2 separate regions of the Homo sapiens genome follow, and region 1 is linked to region 2. Evidence: fine-mapped expression QTL. A gene starts in region 2. The other region holds a variant in brackets. All regions are shown on one strand. Distances are from middle to middle.

The links. PIP is the estimated chance that this variant, and not a neighbour inherited with it, causes the effect.
Region 1: its variant is the best candidate, but not a certain one, in a credible set for the expression of AGTR2 in aorta (GTEx, PIP 0.65).

Annotation. Positions count from the first base shown.
Region 1 is chrX:116,906,097-116,911,342 of GRCh38, forward strand. No RefSeq gene overlaps it. Among named protein-coding and RNA genes, the nearest start is that of CT83, 450 kb to the left of the region's middle. The variant G/T (reference allele first, on the strand shown) is at 2,036.
Region 2 is chrX:116,168,633-116,173,878 of GRCh38, forward strand. It overlaps AGTR2 (angiotensin II receptor type 2), which reads left to right and starts at 2,112. Exons shown (of 3, transcript NM_000686.5): 1 at 2,112-2,184; 2 at 2,336-2,395; 3 at 3,614-5,246. The coding sequence starts at 3,649. The coding sequence ends at 4,740.

The sequences.
Region 1 (5,246 bases), 740 kb after region 2:
CACTCCTTCTTTAAATGTTTGGTAGAATTCAGCCATAAAACATTCCTGAGATTCTCTTTGATTGTAGATTCTTTATTGCTGATTCTATTTTTTTACTCCTTATTTGTCTGTTCAGATTTTCTATTTCTTCATGAAATAGGTTTTGGTAGACAGTATATGATTAGGAATTCATCAATTTTTTCCTAGGTTATCCAATTTGTTGGTATATATTGGTTCATAGTAGTCTCTTATGATCCTTTTATTTCTCTGATATCAGTGGTAACATATTTTCATTTCTGATTTTTCTTAGTATAGCTGTTTGTCAATTTTACTATCTTTACAAAATGAGTGTTGACCTTTCCTATGTTTTTTTCTCATTTCTGTTTTATGTCTGCTCTAATTTTTATTATTTTTCTTCTGCTAACTTCAGTTAGTTTTTCTATTCCTTGTGGTGTAAAAGTAGGTTGTTTGTTTGGAAACTTTCTTTTTCCTTAATATATGCATTTATTTCTAGCAACTTCTCTCTTAGAACAGCTTTTTCTGCATCTCATATGATTAGATATGCTGTGTTCCTATTTGTATTGGTCTTAAGGAACTTTTAAATTTTCCTTTTGATTTCTTGTTTGATCTATTTTTTGTTCAATAGCATGTTGTTTAATTTCCACAAATTTTGAATTTTCCAAAATTCTTCCTGTTATTGATTTTTTGTTGCATACCATTTTGGTCAGTAAAGATACTAGATGTTATTTCAATCTTTTAAATTCACTGACTTGTTATGTGGCCTAATATAAGATCTATCCTGGAGAATGTTCTACATGCACTTGAGAAAAATGCGTATTCTGCTGTTGTTGGAAAGCATACGTGTATATGCCTTCCAGGTTCATGTGGTCTAAAGTGTCTTCAAGAACAATGTTTCCTTATTGATTTTCTGTCTAGATGATCTATTTGTCATTGAAACTGGGGTTTCAAATCCCCCAGTATTATTGTTTTGTATTTTTCCCTTCAGATCTATTAATATTTGCTTTATATTTTAGGTGCTCCAATTCTGGGTGCATACATAGTTACAACTGCTCTATTCTCTTGATAAATTGACTCCTTTACCATGATATAATGACCCTCTTTGCCTCTTGTCACAGTTTCTGTCTTAAAGTCTATGTTATATGATAAAACTATAGCTACTTTTGCTTTCTTTTGGTTTACATATGCATTAAGTATCTTTTTTTCTTTCCTTCACTTTAAGTCCCTGAGTGTCCTTAAATCTAAAGTGAGCTTCTTATAGGGAGAATATAATTGGGTCTTGTTTATTTATTCATTCAGCCACTCTGCATCTTTTGATTAAATAATTTAATCTACTTACATTCAAGAACTATTGATAGGTATGGACTTACTACTGCCATTAGTTAATGCTTTCTGGTTATGTTGTAGATCTTTTGTTGTTTCTTATACTCTTGCTGCTGTCTTTATTATTATTATTATTATCATCATTATTTTGGTGATTTGATGATTTCCTGTCCTGTAGTGGTATGCCCTGACTCATCTCTTGTTATCTTTTGTGTATCTGCTATATACAGTTCACTGGTAAAATAAATATATAATCAAATTCAGAATACTCATAATGATGGTTTGTAAATCACCTATAACTCAATAATTTAAAGGTAAAACTATAAAGCATTAAAAATAACTATATTACAATAATTTGTTAATGGATACACAGTATAATAAGATGTGAATTTTGACATCAAAAACATAAAAAGTGGGAGGGGGAGTAAAAGTGTAGAGTTCTTTTCATTCATTTAAGATTATGCTGTTATTAGCTTAAAATAGTCTTTTCTAACTATAAGAAATCTCATGCTGACCACAAAGCAAAAACCTGTAGTAGATACATATCTTTGTAGGCAGCACAGCCAGGTAGTCAGAGTCTTGAACATGGGCACATAAGAAGTTATAGTGGCTCTGGAGTTCCAGATGTAGTAGTGATTAACTTGATGTAACTGCAGCTCCGATGTCCTAGGAGTAGGCACACATAAAGCAGCCCTGGAGGAGGAATATGTAGTAC[G/T]GGCATGCACAGAGTGACCAAGGCTCCAGAGAATGAGACAAGGCTGGCCTGTAGCTGCAATATCTCTGGTGTTTGCAGCATGGGTGTGTGTGGTTTGGCCACAGAGCCGAAGTCTGAAACACTAGAAAATGAGAAGTTCTTTGGAGCCAGTGTTTGAAGTGTGGGCATATGCACAGCGGTCACAACTTCAGAGTCAAGAGTGTGTGCAAGGTTGGAAGAGGTGATGGCTCCAGCCTTGAAACAGTGCACAGCTGCTTCTTCTTGGGGGGGGCGGGGGCACACCCACGTCTCCATCTCAGCGGTTTTTGGAGGGGATTGCTGTTGATTACCTCACTGGTAAAAGATGCTAGTGTTCTTTCCAGCATAGGCAACTGAAGACCATGATGTCACCCATTGCCTGGCTGATGCTGACAGCCACTGGCCTATTTCTTTGTTCCTACTATCTCCAGACATCTCAGGTATGCCAACTTCCCCAGGGATCTTTTCTGTGTCTTTACTCTTCATTTTATTGTATTGTTTCATTTTGCTTTTTTCTGTTTTTCTCCACTGTGTTGCTTCAAGTTCTTAAATTAACCCTTGATCCCTCCCAGGGCTATTATTCTTCATGAATAACTATTTGTTGCTTTCTGTAGATACTATGATTTGAATATTGTGCCTTCCAAAACTCATGGTGAAAATTAATCCCCAATGTGACAGTGTCAAAAGGTCGGGCGTTTCATAGGTGATTGGTTTGTGAGGGTATTCCCCTCACAAATGGATGAATCTATTCATCAGTTAATTACTAGGTCATCATGGGAAGGCAACTGGTGTCTTTATAAGAAAGGAAAGAGAGAACTGAGCTAACATGTTAGCACACTCAGCTCCCTTGCCATGTGATGCCCTGAACTGCCCTGTACCACCTTGGGACTGTACAGAGAGTCCCCACCAGCAAGAAAGCTCTCCCAAGATGTTGCTCCTCAATCGTTGAACTTCTCAAGTGAAACTTGGACTTCTCAGTCTCCATAACTATAAGAGATAAATGTCATCTTCTTTATAAATAACCCAGTCTCCTCTATTCTGCTATAAGCAATATAAAACAGACTATGACAGTGGGGGCTGAAAGGCTTGTCTACTACTTCACCACCTTGCTGATAACACCCTATCAATTGAGTTTTTAAATACATTTGTAAAACTCATGGAAAATGATCAATAGTATTGAAAGCCAAGTTTTTTTCTGATTTTGTAGGATCTATATTAAGACTTTGGAGATATAAAATGCATTATTATGGTAACAGCAGCCTGAATGTAAATACAAACATTTGAAAGATTACAAAATTATGTGGATAACATTTATGTTATAAAAATGAGTGAGGAAAGAATTCATGATTATATTATACTCTTTTACCATCTCCAAAAGAGATATGTTTGATGCTAACGCAGGAGTTTAGAGTAATAGTGTTAGAAGACACTGAGTATCTCTAATAAGGGATCCTGTGTTCCCCACACTCACTCCAGGTAGAGGGACAATGTGAAGGAAACACCAGATAAGTTGGAGGGTACTCTCTAAAGTAGAAGCAACCTTTGTCTAGCTGTTCATGTTGTCAACTGAGAATATAGTTAGACATGCATTCAGCATGGTGCTGGGACTCTCAACCAACAATGGTGAGTGAAAGTCAAAGTAGATAGACCTAAAGGTAGGCTCACTGAGTTATATGTACCTTGTTATAGAGCTTTGTAAAATTCCTATACTTCAGGTGAGTGCAGGGAAAGTTGAAATAAGGCAGGCCAAGGAGATGTATATTAGTGGTTTGGATAAGGAGGACACATAGTGCAAAGACTATCATCAACCAGAGGCCACAGTGGGTCCAGGATTATCACAGTAAATGCCAGTTGAAGTGGATGGCAAAAAAACAATAGCAATTAGCTACAGCTTAATTTAATGATAGCAAAGGTTATAGGACATGCATGAAGCTGGGGTCCATACTACTTATTTACATGGCAAGACAATATGGAATCCTCCAAACTCCACCCTATTTTTTATTGGGAATGGAACAAAACAATAGATATTCCAGAGTTTGTGTAATTTAAACAACAAAAACTAAAGTACAAGCAATTTTGAAATTATATTACCATGTGGATCCGTTGGTGGTGGTTCTCTTGTGTTGTGTGTATATAGCTGATCTTTCAAAAATGTATTTTGAATAACTTTAGACTCATACAGAAAATTTGTAAAAATAGTAGAGTTCCCATACATTCTTCACCCTGTTTCTCCTATTAACATCTTACATAACCATGGTGAATTTATAAAAACTAAGAAAATAACATTTATACAGTATTGTTACATAAACTACAAACTTGCTTCAGGTTTAACAAGTTTTTCCATTATTTTTTTTTCCAGTTCCAGGATCTAATCCTAAATACTACATTGTGTTAAGTCGCCATGCTTTCTTAATCTCCTTCAAGCTGCAAAAATTCTTTGGTATTTACTTGTCTTTTATGTCTCAATAATTCTGAAGTGTACTGGTCAGTGTATTTCTAGAAATAGGTTTTCTCTACTAGGTTTTCCCTCAAATAGGTTTTCTCTAATGTTTTCTCATGATTAGACTGAAGTGGTGCAATATTTGGAAGAAAACCACAGAGGTCGTGTTTTGCTTTTCTCACTGAATTATATTGGGATCACAGGATGTCTCTATTTCTCGTTACTGGTAACATTAATCTTAATCACTCAGTTAAGGTAGTGTCTGAGAGCTTACTCTACCATAAATTTACTATTGTTCTCCTGTTAGTAATAAATATTTTGGAAAAGGTATTTTGAGACTATTCATATGTGCTAATTTTCTGTAAATTTTTGTCCACTAATTTTAATGTGCTTCAGTAGATCTTGCCAAAAACAATTATTACTGTGGTGTTCTAATGGTAATTTTTTATTATCATTTTTCATCCATATCTATTAATTATAATTTTCTATAAAAAAGACATTATATTATTCTGTGGCTAACAATATTATTCTTGTTTATTATTTAAATTATTCCATTTGTGGTATAAGGCTTAAAATTAATAATTAACATTATGTGCTGCTTTGACATCTGCTGAAATCTGGATGGCCTCAAATGGCCAAACTGCAAGTTCTCCTCCACACTCTGTTCCCATAGATATTTTCCCTAGCCAAACAATCCTTTTTATAATGGGAACAAGGTACCACTGCTGTTTATCCCTAGGTAGCAAGTTTTAG
Region 2 (5,246 bases):
ACATTTGAAATGGAGGGAGAAACCAGGTTTAAACAATGAGTGAAAACAGTTTCCATCTCAGCTTTCCTGCTGATAAACATATGTGCCCCCTCATTTGTTTCTGAAACATAAGTTTTCCATCATTTTAACAGAGCCTCAGCCTCAACTGAATCTGTCCAGAGCATAGGAAACAAATATTTTGAGATTTAGTAAAATGGTGCATACATATATTAGGGGCATTTTGACAATGTTCAAACTGTTTACCAAACAAACTTTATGATGGCCTATGCAAACCTTTGAATCCTACTGTATTTTTCACATAACGATGACTTCTCACTGATCTCATCTGCCTGTGTGCTACAGTATTGACTTTAATATTAATGGAGAAACAGACAGATATCAAAAGCCATGTGATTTGTCTCATGCCATTTGCAATTTTGTCTTCTGTCATCAACACTGACTTCTCCTTCCTTGTTCTGCTGAACTCCATACTTAGGTGCCCAGCTACTTCCTCAGAGCCTGCCCTCATTCTTTACCTGTGGCCTGCAGCATGGACAGGTGCATTCTTGCTGCTTATCTGAAAAATATGATCCACAGAAATAACTTGAATCTTTTTGCCCATTTAAAATGTGCTCTAGGTTCTCTGGTTCTCTGTACTAACTATAGAAAGCCATCTAGTCACAAGTTTCTCCTTCCTGTGGTCTCCATTTGGGCAATACAATTAAGAAAAATACGTTTCCCCACATAACAATTCTTCCAATTCTTTTCCCCTTCTTTGATGCTTTTATGATAGATTATGAATGGTCATCAGTGATTTTCTGTAAATGCCACGTTTCCTTTTTGCCAAGACAAAGAGTGAGACTAAGGGACCATCTAGTGCTTCCTCTTGTGGTATAGAGGCTAAACAGCGTGAGTTCTGATATTAGTTTCCTTTGATTTAAATGCAAGTGTCTTCATTTAATAGCTGTATGATCTCAGAAAAGTTATTAAACTCTATGAGTCCTAGTTTCCTGATTTGTAAAGTGGGGGCTAATATGAATAGCTTGTAATAGCACCTACCATATGCTAGGCATGATTTTAGGCACTTTAAACATATTAGCTCATTTAATTTTCCATTAGCTTATTTAAAATTCCTACTCTACGATGTAGGTAATTTATATCATTCTCCTTTCTCAGATGAGAAACTGAGACATGAAGAAGTAAAGTAACTTGGCCAAGGTCAGAATTAGTAAGTGGTAGAGCTGGGTTTGTAAAGCCAGGTAGTTGGATCCCAGAGGCTATTTACTAACCAGTGTGCTATATTGCCTCTCTATTAAATTATTGATGATAAATAACTCATCACAGTGTTCGGCACATAACATTTATTGTCAGCTAGTATTATCACTACCATCACCTGTTCTTATCTTTCTTCATTTTGTCACTCTTGCTTCTGCTGGATTGGTTGTGTAGTTTATTGCCCCCACTGCCACAAGAGACAGCAGCAACAGTGATCTAGGTTGAAATAGCTAGCGAATCCCTCTTCACTTTATGTGCTTTGTATTTAAACCACAAATATGACAGAGACCTATGAAAGGAGACTAAACCTCTTTTTGGTCGTGTAAAAATTATATTCCTGCAATCTCCAACCCTCCAGCAACAAGCCAACAAAAACTGCGCAAAGCAAGGGAGAAATTTTAGAAGTGGTAGACTTCAAGTAAAATTCCTACCATTCTTTAATAAACAGGGGTAAAAATTTCAGAAAGTAATGAAGGTTGTGAAAGCTGATGAACAAAGACTTTGCTACTATAATAAATTTCCTAGTCTCTACTCACTAATTTCTATTAGAATGCCAATATCAGGAAAAAAGGAAGAGAAAATTCTGTAAATAATTACTATATTTTTCTCCTACCAAGTAAGCCACTGACTTCAAAATTCTCTAGCACATTTGTGGAAACTTCATTTTTTTTGTTTGAGATTTATTTGAATGAGCTGTTATGATTGGAGACAGTGAGAATTTCAGATTAATGTTTTGCAGACAAAAAAAAACCTCTCTGGAAAGCTGGCAAGGGTTCATAAGTCAGCCCTAGAATTATGTAGGTTGAAGGCTCCCAGTGGACAGACCAAACATATAAGAAGGAAACCAGAGATCTGGTGCTATTACGTCCCAGCGTCTGAGAGAACGAGTAAGCACAGAATTCAAAGCATTCTGCAGCCTGAATTTTGAAGGTAAGTATGAACAATTTATATATAATTTACTTGGAAAGTAGAACATACATTAAATGAAAATATTTTTTATGGATGAACTTCTGTTTTTCCTGTGTTTTAACACTGTATTTTGCAAAACTCCTGAATTATTTAGCTGCTGTTTCTCTTACAGGAGTGTGTTTAGGCACTAAGCAAGCTGATTTATGATAACTGCTTTAAACTTCAACAACCAGTAAGTCTTCAAGTGGAATTTATTATTGATTCTTTTATGTTAATTTGTTAGGTCAAAAGAAAAATCTTTAGAGCAAAATAAAAGTTTTGCTCTTTATTAGGAGGTTCTTTAGATATTACACTTTTAATTGGGTAGCTTATTTGCATGTATTTTGAAACTATCTAAAGTAAATAGTGTTTCCTTTGTATGCTTATCTTTAGCTAATGTGTTTTTTTTTTTGGTTTTAAAATAATGCTTCTAGTGAAAAAAATCACAAAAACCTCAACACTGTAACGTTTGAGAGCAACGGCTATTCAGTTCGGTTAAACCGAAAAGAGAGAAAAAGAAAAATGATAAGACTATATCATGATTAATCATTGATGTTCATTTCTCATTTCACTGAGCAATCTAAACTACTTCTACTTGAACCTAACATAGGTTTGGCTGTTTTTTTCTTTATCTGATTTAATTGAAAATGGATTGTTTAGATATTAAATAGACCAAAATTAGATATCTATATCTAAAACTAATATTCTCTATTAAAAGGAGAAGACTTAGAAATATAAATATATTTCATAACTTCTTCTTAACTATATTATTATTGTGAAAACAATAGAAAAGTAAAACTAAAGGAATTATTTTTAATTATTAAAGACAAACCATGATTCCCCATCACAATATGTTCCTTTGGCATATTCTCTTTTAGTTTTTTATATACTTATTTTTTCCATTGCTTATGTTACTTATATTTTCCACAGCTGTAGTGATTTGTATGTAATTAGTTACTTAAATAGAGCATTTCTCTATGCAATAGCAAGCAGCAGTGTGGTTTCTAGAAAGTATACAAACAGAGATATATGCTCAAGTGTTTTTTGAAAGATTAACTTTTCTTACCTCTGGGTTTCTTATTTGTTTCACACATTTCCTGCCCTGACTAATCTTTTGAAATATTAATTTTCTTTAAATCTTTCAAAAACATCATAGAAAAGATGGGCAAAAGGTAGTTTTATTCAGAACTTTGAATCTCTGAAATGTCTTTTTTCTACTATCAGGAAAATTATTTCTCCTTTTTCAAGAGGTAAAATGAATTCTTGTTTTACAAGCCATGGCTCTGTTTCTTAATGTTTTCTATAATCACTCACTTTTTTTTTGCTTTTGACAAACATTCAAAATGCTAATGATTCAAGGATGTCCTCAGCTCTGTATGTGTTCTAAGAGTTCTATGTTTTTTCTCCACAGAAGGCATAAGAACTAGGAGCTGCTGACATTTCAATATGAAGGGCAACTCCACCCTTGCCACTACTAGCAAAAACATTACCAGCGGTCTTCACTTCGGGCTTGTGAACATCTCTGGCAACAATGAGTCTACCTTGAACTGTTCACAGAAACCATCAGATAAGCATTTAGATGCAATTCCTATTCTTTACTACATTATATTTGTAATTGGATTTCTGGTCAATATTGTCGTGGTTACACTGTTTTGTTGTCAAAAGGGTCCTAAAAAGGTTTCTAGCATATACATCTTCAACCTCGCTGTGGCTGATTTACTCCTTTTGGCTACTCTTCCTCTATGGGCAACCTATTATTCTTATAGATATGACTGGCTCTTTGGACCTGTGATGTGCAAAGTTTTTGGTTCTTTTCTTACCCTGAACATGTTTGCAAGCATTTTTTTTATCACCTGCATGAGTGTTGATAGGTACCAATCTGTCATCTACCCCTTTCTGTCTCAAAGAAGAAATCCCTGGCAAGCATCTTATATAGTTCCCCTTGTTTGGTGTATGGCCTGTTTGTCCTCATTGCCAACATTTTATTTTCGAGACGTCAGAACCATTGAATACTTAGGAGTGAATGCTTGCATTATGGCTTTCCCACCTGAGAAATATGCCCAATGGTCAGCTGGGATTGCCTTAATGAAAAATATCCTTGGTTTTATTATCCCTTTAATATTCATAGCAACATGCTATTTTGGAATTAGAAAACACTTACTGAAGACGAATAGCTATGGGAAGAACAGGATAACCCGTGACCAAGTCCTGAAGATGGCAGCTGCTGTTGTTCTGGCCTTCATCATTTGCTGGCTTCCCTTCCATGTTCTGACCTTCCTGGATGCTCTGGCCTGGATGGGTGTCATTAATAGCTGCGAAGTTATAGCAGTCATTGACCTGGCACTTCCTTTTGCCATCCTCTTGGGATTCACCAACAGCTGCGTTAATCCGTTTCTGTATTGTTTTGTTGGAAACCGGTTCCAACAGAAGCTCCGCAGTGTGTTTAGGGTTCCAATTACTTGGCTCCAAGGGAAAAGAGAGAGTATGTCTTGCCGGAAAAGCAGTTCTCTTAGAGAAATGGAGACCTTTGTGTCTTAAACGTGAGAGCAAAATGCATGTAATCAACATGGCTACTTGCTTTGAGGCTCACCAGAATTATTTTTAAGTGGTTTTAATAAAATAATAAAATTTCCCCTAATCTTTTCTGAATCTTCTGAAACCAAATGTAACTATGTTTTATCGTCCAGTGACTTTCAGGAATTGCCCATTGTTTTTCTGATATGTTTGTACAAGATTGTCATTAGTGAGACATATTTACAACCTAGAAGTAACTGGTGATATATCTCAAATTGTAATTAATAATAGATTGTGAATAATGATTTGGGGATTCAGATTTCTCTTTGAAACATGCTTGTGTTTCTTAGTGGGGTTTTATATCCATTTTTATCAGGATTTCCTCTTGAACCAGAACCAGTCTTTCAACTCATTGCATCATTTACAAGACAACATTGTAAGAGAGATGAGCACTTCTAAGTTGAGTATATTATAATAGATTAGTACTGGATTATTCAGGCTTTAGGCATATGCTTCTTTAAAAAAGCTAT